Linked DNA regions of Homo sapiens. The protein of the gene in region 3 interacts with the protein of the main gene of each other region in a pairwise test. Each region holds a gene or a part of one and is shown on either strand. Other genes may lie near its edges. The genes, in order: EXOSC10, SATB1 and USP16.

Evidence for each region.
Region 1: the proteins of USP16 (region 3) and EXOSC10 interact in a two-hybrid assay, tested with the Homo sapiens proteins (one large-scale study listed by BioGRID).
Region 2: the proteins of USP16 (region 3) and SATB1 interact in a two-hybrid assay, tested with the Homo sapiens proteins (one large-scale study listed by BioGRID and IntAct).

Annotation. Positions count from the first base shown.
Region 1 is NC_000001.11:11,068,863-11,072,515, reverse strand, and holds part of EXOSC10 (exosome complex component 10), read left to right. Parts: intron 1-344; coding exon 345-429; intron 430-1,527; coding exon of another isoform or gene 1,528-1,542; coding exon 1,543-1,616; intron 1,617-2,785; coding exon 2,786-2,957; intron 2,958-3,653. UniProt on the Homo sapiens protein: Catalytic component of the RNA exosome complex which has 3'->5' exoribonuclease activity and participates in a multitude of cellular RNA processing and degradation events.
Region 2 is NC_000003.12:18,380,308-18,383,960, forward strand, and holds part of SATB1 (DNA-binding protein SATB1), read right to left. Parts: intron 1-3,653. UniProt on the Homo sapiens protein: Crucial silencing factor contributing to the initiation of X inactivation mediated by Xist RNA that occurs during embryogenesis and in lymphoma.
Region 3 is NC_000021.9:29,048,525-29,051,837, forward strand, and holds part of USP16 (ubiquitin carboxyl-terminal hydrolase 16), read left to right. Parts: intron 1-236; coding exon 237-331; intron 332-1,567; coding exon 1,568-1,654; intron 1,655-3,313. UniProt on the Homo sapiens protein: Specifically deubiquitinates 'Lys-120' of histone H2A (H2AK119Ub), a specific tag for epigenetic transcriptional repression, thereby acting as a coactivator.

The DNA.
Region 1 (3,653 bases), on a different chromosome or scaffold from region 3:
TACTGACCATGTCCCTTGGACAAGTTATTTACTCTCCCGGAGTCTGTTTGCTCATCTCTAAAGAGAGGGTGATGACAGTACCTTTTTCCCAGGGTTACAGAGGGATTGAATGAGATGATGGATGGCCCAGTGCCTGGAGGACAGTAGCACTTTGTCCTTAATAGGGATTTTAGCAATAAAGCCAGCATGAAATTTATTTTTCATGCCCTTAGATTTGAAAATTTATGACTTAGAATGTGTGTACTTCTTAGGTTAACCTGCCCTTCGTCACCTCATGAAAAGTAAGACAGACTTAGGTGGCTGACTTTGGAGGGTTTTTTTTGTTATATTTGCTTTCATTATAGATCAGCAACCGCTGGAAGCTGGCCCAGGTACAAGTACAAAAAGACTCTAAAGAAGCTGTCAAGAAGAAGGCAGCTGAGCAAACAGGTAACACTCACTTCCTTGCAACTCAGTCGGCTGTTAAAGAATGGCTGTTGCACACCCGCTGTTTCAGCCAAGTGCCAGATACGGCGATGAATGAAGCCCCTGTGGGGCTTCCCTTCTGCTGAGGGATGGTGGGCAATCAGTATCTATCCTGGCAGATGGCAGCAGGTGCTGTGCAGAGAGATTGGTGGGGAGTGCTGGAGGTGCTGTAGCTGTCTCGTTGGTGGTTGGAGAAGGCAGTCTAATGAATGCGACATTGACGAGACCTGCAGTGACCTAGAGAAGAGTTCTGGAGCCACAGCACAGCGAGCCCAGAGGCCCTGGGGCTAGTTCACTGGGCATGCTGAGCAGCAGCAAGTGGGCCTGCATGAGCAGAGCGGGTAGAGAAGAGCAGGAGATGGGGAAGGAGCCAGCAGAGGCCCACGGGATGACGCTGCCTTTTACTCTGAGTTCAGAAGCCAGGAGGGTGCTGAGCAGACGGGGGGAAGTGACTGACATGTGGCACTCTGGCTGCTGTGTCAACAGTAGACTATAGAGGACAGGATGGGAGTCCAGGAAGGGATAGGAGACATGGCAGTGGCTCAGGCGAGAGGGGATGGTGGCTTTGAGACCAGCGTGGGAGCAGAGGAGGTGGTGAGAAGCTGTCAGAGCCTTGATCTGTCCCATAGCAAAGCTGACAGCATTTGATGATGAGGTGGATGTGGCATGTGAGAAAAGGGAAGGGAACCTTGGATGAAGGTTTTGTCCTGAGCAGCTGGAAAGCTGGAGTTGCTGGCAGCCAAAGTAGCTGGTTTGAGCAGGTTTGTCCACGATGGTGATGGTGACGATCCTGTTAAACGCCCTCAGGTCCACAGGCCACTGAGCATTTAGGTTCACAGAAGAGGAGCAGGCAGGGCTGGGGAGGATCAGCTCACGTGTAGCTGAAGGTGGGCAGAGCACCTGAGCCTGAGCTCTGAGGCAGCCTGTCCTGCAGAGATGGGGGACCGGGGACCTGAGAGGGAGGAGGAATCAGCCGTGACAACCCCTGTGGCTAGGCCAAGTCGGAGGGGGATGGAGATGGAGGGGAGGGTGGTTGCTGGATTCACCAACTCCAGAGACAAGTTCTCTCCCTTGCAGCTGCCCGGGAACAGGCAAAGGAGGCGTGCAAAGCTGCAGCAGAACAGGCCATCTCCGTCCGACAGCAGGTCGTGGTATGTGCCAGCTTTTCTCCTTTTTCCTTTGAAAAACGATGCCCCTGCTTGTGGTCAGGATCTTCCTTGGATATCTTAGGGGGCTTGCCCTGTGCTTTATATTAAGTCCTGACTTCTTTCCGGTTCACCTTAGCTTGGCTATTAGTGTCTACCTCATTTCCGAAACCTCCACAAGATTGATATTGTAATTCCTCTTAACCTTCTTCCACTGTGTTTATGGTAAATATGCCAGACCACTCAACTGTAGTAGTAGAAAAGGTATTGAGGTTACAGTGCTGAAGCTTGTTGTGTGTCCTGCTGTGTCCTACAAAAATGTTGCATTCTAGAGAATGAAACCCCAGAGCACTCTGGAACTCTTTTTTTTTTTTTTTTTTTTTTGAAGTAGTGTCTACCTCTGTTGCACAGGCTGGAGTGCAGTGGCACAGTTGCAGCTCACTACAGCCTCAAACTCTTGGGCTCAAACGATCCTCCCTCCTCAACCACCCAAGTAGCTAGACCACAGGCACACACCACCATTCCCAGCTATTTTTTGTTATTGTTTTTGGTGGAGACGGGGTCTCACTATATTGCCCAGGCTATCACTCGAATTCTTAACCCCTGCCCCCTGCCTTTCCTTTTTTTTTTTTTTTTTTTTAATTTCCTTTTAAAAAAAAAATAGTGACATGGTCTTACTCTTACCCTGATGCCCAGGCTGGAGTACAGTGGTGCAATTATAGCTCATTGCAGCCTTGTACTCCTGGGTTCAAGTGATCCTCCCACCTCAGCCTCCCAAGTAGCTAGGACTACAAGCACGCACCACCATGCCCAGCTACATTTGTTTCTTTTTTTTTGTAGAGATAGGGGTCTTGCTATGTTGCCCAGGCTGGTCTCAGACTGCCTAAAGCAGTCCTCCCACCTAGGCCGCCCAAAGCACTGGAATTATAGGCATGAGCCACTGCACCTGGCCTGCTTGCCTTTCTTAAATGACCTCATGTCATTGTCCAGTGAGGAATTTGTTTCAGCTGACCCTGAGTGTTGGTCCCGAAGTTCCAGCCACAGCTCCTCTCCCCACCACTGACTGTTCTTCTTACCACTTAGGCAGCTGGGTCCCAGCTATTGCTGAGGCCGGTGGAGTTCCCTGTTCCCATGTGCCTCCCTGTTCCTCCCCCACATCTGTTCCTGATCTACAGCTAGAAAATGCTGCAAAGAAGAGAGAGCGAGCAACAAGCGACCCAAGGACCACAGAACAGAAACAAGAGAAGAAACGACTCAAAATTTCCAAGAAGCCAAAGGACCCAGAGCCACCAGAAAAAGAGTTTACGCCTTACGACTACAGCCAGTCAGACTTCAAGGCTTTTGCTGGTGAGGAAGTAATGGGGCCCCATACAGGGACATCTGTGCGCGTCAGAGGGGAGGAAGCCATAAAGAGACCACAATATAGGGGCCAAGTGAGTCCTGCACAAGGCATGGTGCTAGCCAGGAATTGTTGGAGTAGTCCAGAGAGGCCGTGGCAATGTGGACAGTCGCCTGCAGCCTCATTACCACCTCCTCCATGGGAGCTCAACTCATGGTGGCCTCCATGGTGGGTTAGCAAGATCACCTGTCACTTCCACTGTGACCAGGGCGCCATCCTTCCTCACTATAACTTGTGCCCATAAACCCTCTCTCTCTCTCTCACACACACACACACACAGAATTTTGTTTGTTGAAAAATCTCAAAGCCTATGACATGAACCCCTATGGCTGCTTGGGCTGTGAGAGTCCGTCTGCTTTGAAGGGGCTACAGATGGCATTCTCGACTCTAGCAGCCTTCGGAGCAACATGCTCCTTTGGAAAAGAGAAAGCAGAGGCCAGTCCACACAATGGCCCTTTATACAGGAGTGTCGCCTCAGAGCCCGAGTTCCTTATGGCATCACCCAGCACAGAGATCAGAATGGATTTCCTTATGTGCGGGGGCCACTGCTGTAGCCACCTGCCCCTAAGGTCCTGGGACTAGAGCTGAGAGAAATGGGCCTGGTTTTCAGACTGCCCACAGGGACCAGGATCGCTATGTATTCA
Region 2 (3,653 bases), on a different chromosome or scaffold from region 3:
GTGTTTCGATCTGTTTTTAAAGTAATTTTCATTATTTTGTAAAAATGATGTTTAAGAATTTATCTTTGAGGTGCGCTATAATCATTTGTTTCAACCCTGTGACTTTGTTTCTAAAAACTTCTTTGGTTAATTTTTTTTTTTATTTTAAAGCAATTATAATCAAGCACAAATTCTAAATTATTTTAAAAAATCATTTCCTAGTAGCCAACACAATCAAAACAAAAGTGAAAAAAGTATACAAGAAATATTTTTTTTTAAAAAAAGAATGTGAGGGTGAAACTTTAACAATTACAAAGTTAGAAAGTATCTCTGTACTACTCATTTAAAAAATATTTAGGAAAGCTCTTCTTTACCATTTTGTTGGCCCAGATACACATCTTATCATAGATAAGCTATTAGAATTCTAGAATCACATTTTTTTTTTTCCTAAACACAAGCTATTGCTTAAGGGAAACTGACTTGGACAGCTTTTCAAAAATATGAAAGCTGAATTTTTCCCCAGGTAAAAATGGAAACAAAAATCTTTTATACCTCACTCTACTAAGTACTATTTTAGCTTAGTACAAAAAAATCTTCTTTAATCCTGGTTTAGCTTTTAATATTATATCACACATTAAAATTCATAAAGTAGTTCATTCCAGGCAAAACAAACTACTGTTCAGCTCTTCTCCGCAAATAGCACAGGAGGTAAAATAAATGCAGTTGCTTTCAGAATAGCTTTTATCAAGGTAGGGTGTACTACTCCATTATTAAGGCGGCGCCGGGGAAGTAGTTAAGAATTGGAGCTTCTACTACTTACCCTCCCATGTGGGGATAGGGTGCAGCACTAGAGTCTGCTTTTTATTTCACTAAAATTGTGCCGCAGGACACACATTTTCCATAAAAACTCTATTTTGCTTCTTCATGGATTGCTGTATGCATTGAATCATGCTTTTAGATTTTACACGAAATGAACTCTATTTCAGCCTTGATTGGTGAACATCCTACTCTGATGCATGAAGAATTGCCTGCAAGCACACTGCTTTTACACAAGCAAAATTAAAGTTATATGTAGTTTTAATAATTGTGATAATAAACACTGACATTTATTAGTTGTTTATTATGTGCTGGACATTGTATTAATGTATATTAACTTCTTAACTTGCCTAACAGCCCGGAGGAGGTATTATGATTGTCCCATTTTAAAATTGAGAAAACTCCGTTAAAACAAACAGGTTAAACAATTTGTTGGTGGAGCAATGCTGAGATCTAAACTTAACTAGAAACCCAAAGTTATTTAGAGTTCATGACATTACCTGCACCTTCTTTACTTGAAAAAATTCTTAATTTTTAGAGCAGGCTGGACTTGTTTTTTGGTGGCCCTTTGATAAATCTAGCTCATTAATGTCTAATTTTTTAATAGCTATTGATTTTTGATTAAAATCCAATCTAAATTTATTTTTCAGGGTATAAAAATTATATTTTCTTATTAATGAAAATAAGAAATGTCCTCTTTTATGGATGCTTATTAGTGATGGAAAATATTTCCCACTCTCAAATTTTAATATATTAACACTGTCTTTAGCACCATGGTTTCATATTTTTAGATATTTCTTTCCTTCCAGGAACAGTATTATTTTCCAAATCTAGCCTTTAAAAGTCTTCCAGCTTTTAAAAGACGACAATTAATGGGATGCATTTTATAACCACATAAGCAACATCTTAAAATGATCTTCAAGGGATTCATAAGAAATAAAACTTTTACCAAGTGTTAAGTTCCTGCCTGTAACTGAACCTGAAATCAAGATGAACCTATGTTTCATTATATCGTAGAGGGATTTCTTGTAAAGAGACAAAATAGTGCAACTACCAGATTAATCATATACTGTTTATATTAACTTCATAAATTTTCTAAAGCATTGTTATGAAATAGCATACCTTTAGTAATTCTTTAGGTAATTACATAAAGAGATGTAAAAAATGAAGAATTACATAAAGAGATGTAAAAAATGAAGAAAAAAAGACTTTTGTGTAATTCATGTAAAAGCTGTAACTCAGTAATTATATGCTTTCAAACAGTCTTCATGGAAACAAACTGCTAAATTAATTTAACTCCAAAAGTCACACACCATAAAATGCACAAATCAAATTTTAAAAAGTATACCCTTACGGTAGAAATCATCACTTAAAATTCTGTAAAATATACAATTCTCAGATAATAATCATGAATTATTATTGTTCATAAAAATTCCTCTAATAAACTCATCAGGAAAATCTGCAAAGCTTATAGTGAAAAGAAACCTTAAGACCAAGGAAGCTGGGAGGACTGGGTTCTCCCAGATATTTTCATGAGACCAAAGTTTAAAAGGGGCTGTTCTCCCCACAATCCCAGAAATGCCATTGTCTAGTTTTCCCAACTGGATAATTTGTCAAACAAGTTATTTCATTAGGACAATGCTTTAGCACATGCTCCTCTTCCCATTCTAACAAGAAAACCTCCCATCCTCTATGACAAACAAAAAGATCTCCAAGTTTCACTTTTCCCTTTCTAAAATAAGTTTGCTTTTATTCTGAGGAGGTGGCTTGAAGTAGAGGAAGGAGCAAGAGACTTAGCAGAGGATTTGAAAACTCTGACTCAACCTTAAACTTGGTTTTCTCATTTTTCTTCTAGGGAAAGGTTGGTATGAGGATTCAATGAATTAATGTATTCAGCTGCTTTCAGAATAGCTTTTATCAAGTTAGGGTGTGAATCATTATCAGGTGCAAGATATTCTTATTTGTTGAATTAGAGCATGTAAGTTGTGAAAATGTTTGCAGCAACCAGGTCTGGCCCAGAGCCTATAGCCCAGGCAGAGGATGAAGCACAGGGCATAACTGTCCCTACTGGAGCACATGGGATACCTCTGCAGGGAGGCATCTCACCTGGACTGGGCCACCAAGGAGCTCTGGTGTTTCCTGAGGCTAGGTGTCCCCAGGTGGGGTCTGACTAGCCAGGAAGTCCTTTCTTGAAGATGACTTAGAATTCAAGTCCTTCAATAGTTTAGGTCCTTGTTATGGTATGTCCCAAGGGCACTCCAAAATCATCTTCTGCATGTTTTACACTCTATAAAGAGGTGGAAGAGAATCCAGTTTCCCAGGCCTTAATGGGGGCTGGGTTTTCTGTGAACCACTGAGGGCCTCTGCTTTTAACATGTGGTTCTTTAGAAAGAAATCAGGTTTCAGGTGCAACCCAAACCCAAGATTTGTCTCAAAATATGTTTCAAATCTCCTCATTTTGGGGGAAATGAAATGTATACTGATTTCACATGGACTCCTCTTTGGCAAAATGTAAAATTTAAAAAGACAAAATTTTGCAGTCTGTGTTATCTGTGGTTTTCTCCATTTTATCCTTTATTTTAACTCATTTTTAATATGCATACTGGTTCCAGTTTAAGCATCATTTCATTATTTCAACTGCTACAAGACAGCACTAATTCAAGTGCTCTATAACGTGTTTTTCCAAATCTAAAGTACTAATTTTGCATTGATAATACCTTTAATACCTTAAGATTTCTTAAAATTTAATTCATTTAATCATGGTTAAAGGGAAGAATGTGAACAAACTGGTAGTGATCTCCATTATAATAATATTAATAATTTAAAGATTTATATTGCAGCAGCAAAATAAAATTACA
Region 3 (3,313 bases):
TGTATTTTGATTTCATCAGTAAGAATTTATGGACATTTTAATCTCATAAATACCTATAAAATATCTTTGATTTTGCCTCTTACTCCACAAATTCTACAATATTTGTTATCTAGTACTTCATAGAAAAAGTTTACTGATCCTTGCTTTAGATGTTTGGAATGATTTTATAGCAAATCTGAATGCTTTAGGGGTCTAAAATGATTTTCTCCCTGTTAAAAATTTCTTCTTTTCTTTAGGTGAAAGGAAGCATGTTTACACCAATGCCAAAAAGCAGATGCTAATTTCTCTTGCTCCTCCTGTTCTTACTCTTCATTTAAAGAGATTTCAGCAGGTACTCCTTGTTACCCAAAATTTGTTTTAAATATGTAACACCTACTTTATTACCTATTTTTTTCATTACTGTCTCAACATACTACTTTGTTTCTTTGGTTTTCTGTTGTTTCTTAACTGTAATGTCAATGAAGTCAGAAAGGGAAAAACATAGGGGCTAGGCAGAGGCGCATGTGAAGATGGAGGCACAATCTCCTCAGATTTCCTAGAACTCATTTATGTCCCTCTTTTTAGTACGATTGGCATCTTACTTTTATTTCAGGTTAAAAAAAGAAAAAGACTGGTGTGTTACATATATCTCATGCTTAGGAATATTAGTGATTTTTTCTGTTTTGTGTGTGGCATCTTGTTTTTACGGACCCTTGATAAAAAGACATTGGTGCCTTGGATTGTCATCATTTTGGTGACCTCATCTTTTCTGGAAAACTTTTGCTATAGCTGTATAACTTCTAAACTGTGTTGCAAATTCCGAAAGTACTTTCAGTATCTTCAGAACGTTTTGCCTCTTGTGGTTGGTATGGGCTTGACTAATTGGGTGGGCCTTTATTAACAATTCACTAAGCTTGGTTTGAGCATGAGGCTGAGAGCGTGTGTTTCACAGAAAAGTATTATGCTATCGCTGAGTTTTAAGCACTCAGAACCTGTGGTCTAATCTGGCATTTCTGGATGGCTGAAGCAGAAACATTGAGAATTTTCTCACGAGAAAAGTTGTTTTTCTTCTTTTTGAAACAGTCTTGTTCTGTCACCCAGGCTGGTGTGCAATGACACGATCATGGCTCACTGAAGGTTTGACCTCCCAGTCTCAAGCGATCCTCCCACCTTAGCCTCTATAGTAGCTGGGACTATAGGTGGCTACCACCATGTCCAGCTAATTTTTTAATTTTTTTGTAGAGACAGAGTCTCACAGTGTTGCCCAGGCTGATCTCGAACTCCTGGGCTCAAGTGATCCTCCTGCCTCAGCTTCCCAAAGTGCTGAGATTACAGGCATGTGCCATCGTGTCCAGCTGGGAATAGCTTTCTTAATGTGTTGGTGTGTGTTTTTTGTGTGATACATGTGTACTTAGCAAAAGCAAACCAACTTGGAATCAGTTAGTGTTCAGGAAGAATTGAGTCTCCAAAGAAAATTGAACTAGGACTTAATGTTGATATTCTTTTGGACGTCGGAGGGGACTTCGGTTTACTTAACCTGTATTGCTTTTCCAAGAAAAGAAGTCAATCTGTTATGCTTCTCTTTTAGGCTGGTTTTAACCTACGCAAAGTTAACAAACACATAAAGTTTCCGGAAATCTTAGATTTGGCTCCTTTTTGCACCCTTAAATGTAAGGTAAGTCAAAGTGGTCTTTTTCAGGAAAGTCCTTTAAAGTCAAATTGTGGCTTACCTAATGCTCCAGTAGCAACTCACTTAAGTATGAAGTTGATAACACTTATTGAGTAGAGTGGGTCTTTGATCATTGTACCTTTATAATTTGAAGATTAGTGATGAATCATTTTGAAGAATGGGTTATTTCAGTTCAACGTTTGGAATCCCCTTTATTATGGCATACATTGTCTTGTGAGCGGAGGGCATAAAACTAAAGGTGAGCAGATCTATTAATGAATAATCTGTTTAATGTGGTTGAATGTTAAGGCTGGTGAACATAGGTCAGGAGTGGTATACACTTAACCCAGCATGTTGGTGGTTCAGGAATGGCTTTGTAAAGTAAACCATGCCTCAACTATATTTAAAGAAGGAGTAAAAGTATGATGAATCAAGATGAAATGAGTTTTGCAGGCAGAAGGAACAGCAGGAGTAAAAACAGCAGTGTAAAATAGGATGGTGATTGCCAGAGACTGGTAACGTATGTAGTTCTAGAGTTTATAGTACAAGGTTATAGGGAGAGTTGAGAAATGAAGCCAGAGAAGTGAGATAGGAATGAAGTTTTGGAGGGTTCTCATGGTGAGGAACTTGGACTTCATTAGGTATACAGTGGGGAGCCCTGAGGAGTTTAAAGCACTGGGGTGGCATGGTCAGATCTTCATATGACGTAGGTTACTTGTTGATGTATGAAGGCTGAATTTTAGGACGGAAAGACTAGAGGTGGGGAAGTGAGTTTGGAGGCTGTTGTATTAATTCAGCCAGTAGTTGATGAGGGCTTAAAGTTGGGCAGGAGATGGGGAGATAGAAGGAATATTTCAGGAGGTAGAATTAACCAGACTTAATGATTGATTGGCACTGTAAGGTGAGGCAGAGGCCTTTTATAAGTGGATGCTGAGGGTGGCAGAGAAAGGGTTGAGGATGATTCCTGAGGCCTGGCACGACAGATGGGAGTGCTGTAAATTGAGATAGGATATATAGGGAGAAAAGCAGGTTGAGAAAAGCAGGTAGAGAAAGGATAATGACTTCAGTTTTAGATACATTTGAGTGTCAGATACCTTTGAGAAATTAATGTGCTTAGTCTAGAAAACATTTGGATATACATATCTGAGACCTATAGCAGAGAGGTTAGGATGGGCCCAGGGCACAGATTTAGAAATCAGTACATATGTGGCAGTTTAAACTATGAGAAGATGGGATCCCTTGTGTATAGAGTCTGAAGAGAGAAAAAGGAGATGGCCAATGACAGGACCCTCCTAAGTATCTGAGTGGAAGAGGCAGGGGTAGAAAGTGAGGACACCACAAAGGATCTCAAAGAATCTCCATGTTGAAGAATTTGGGGCTGGGCGTGGTGGCTTACGCCTGTAATGCCAACACTTTGGGAGGCCGAGGCGGGTGGATCACTTGAGGTGAGGAGTTCGAGACCAGCCTGGCCAGCATGGTGAAACCCTGTCTCTACTGAAAATACAAAAATTAGCCAGGCATGGTGGTGTGCGCCTGTAATCCCAGCTACTCGGGAGGCTGAGGCAGGAGAATTGCTGGAACCTGGGAGGCAGAGCTGCAGTGAGCCGAGATTGCGTCACTGCACTCCTGCCTAGGTGACAGAGCAAGAAACTCCCTCAAAAAAAA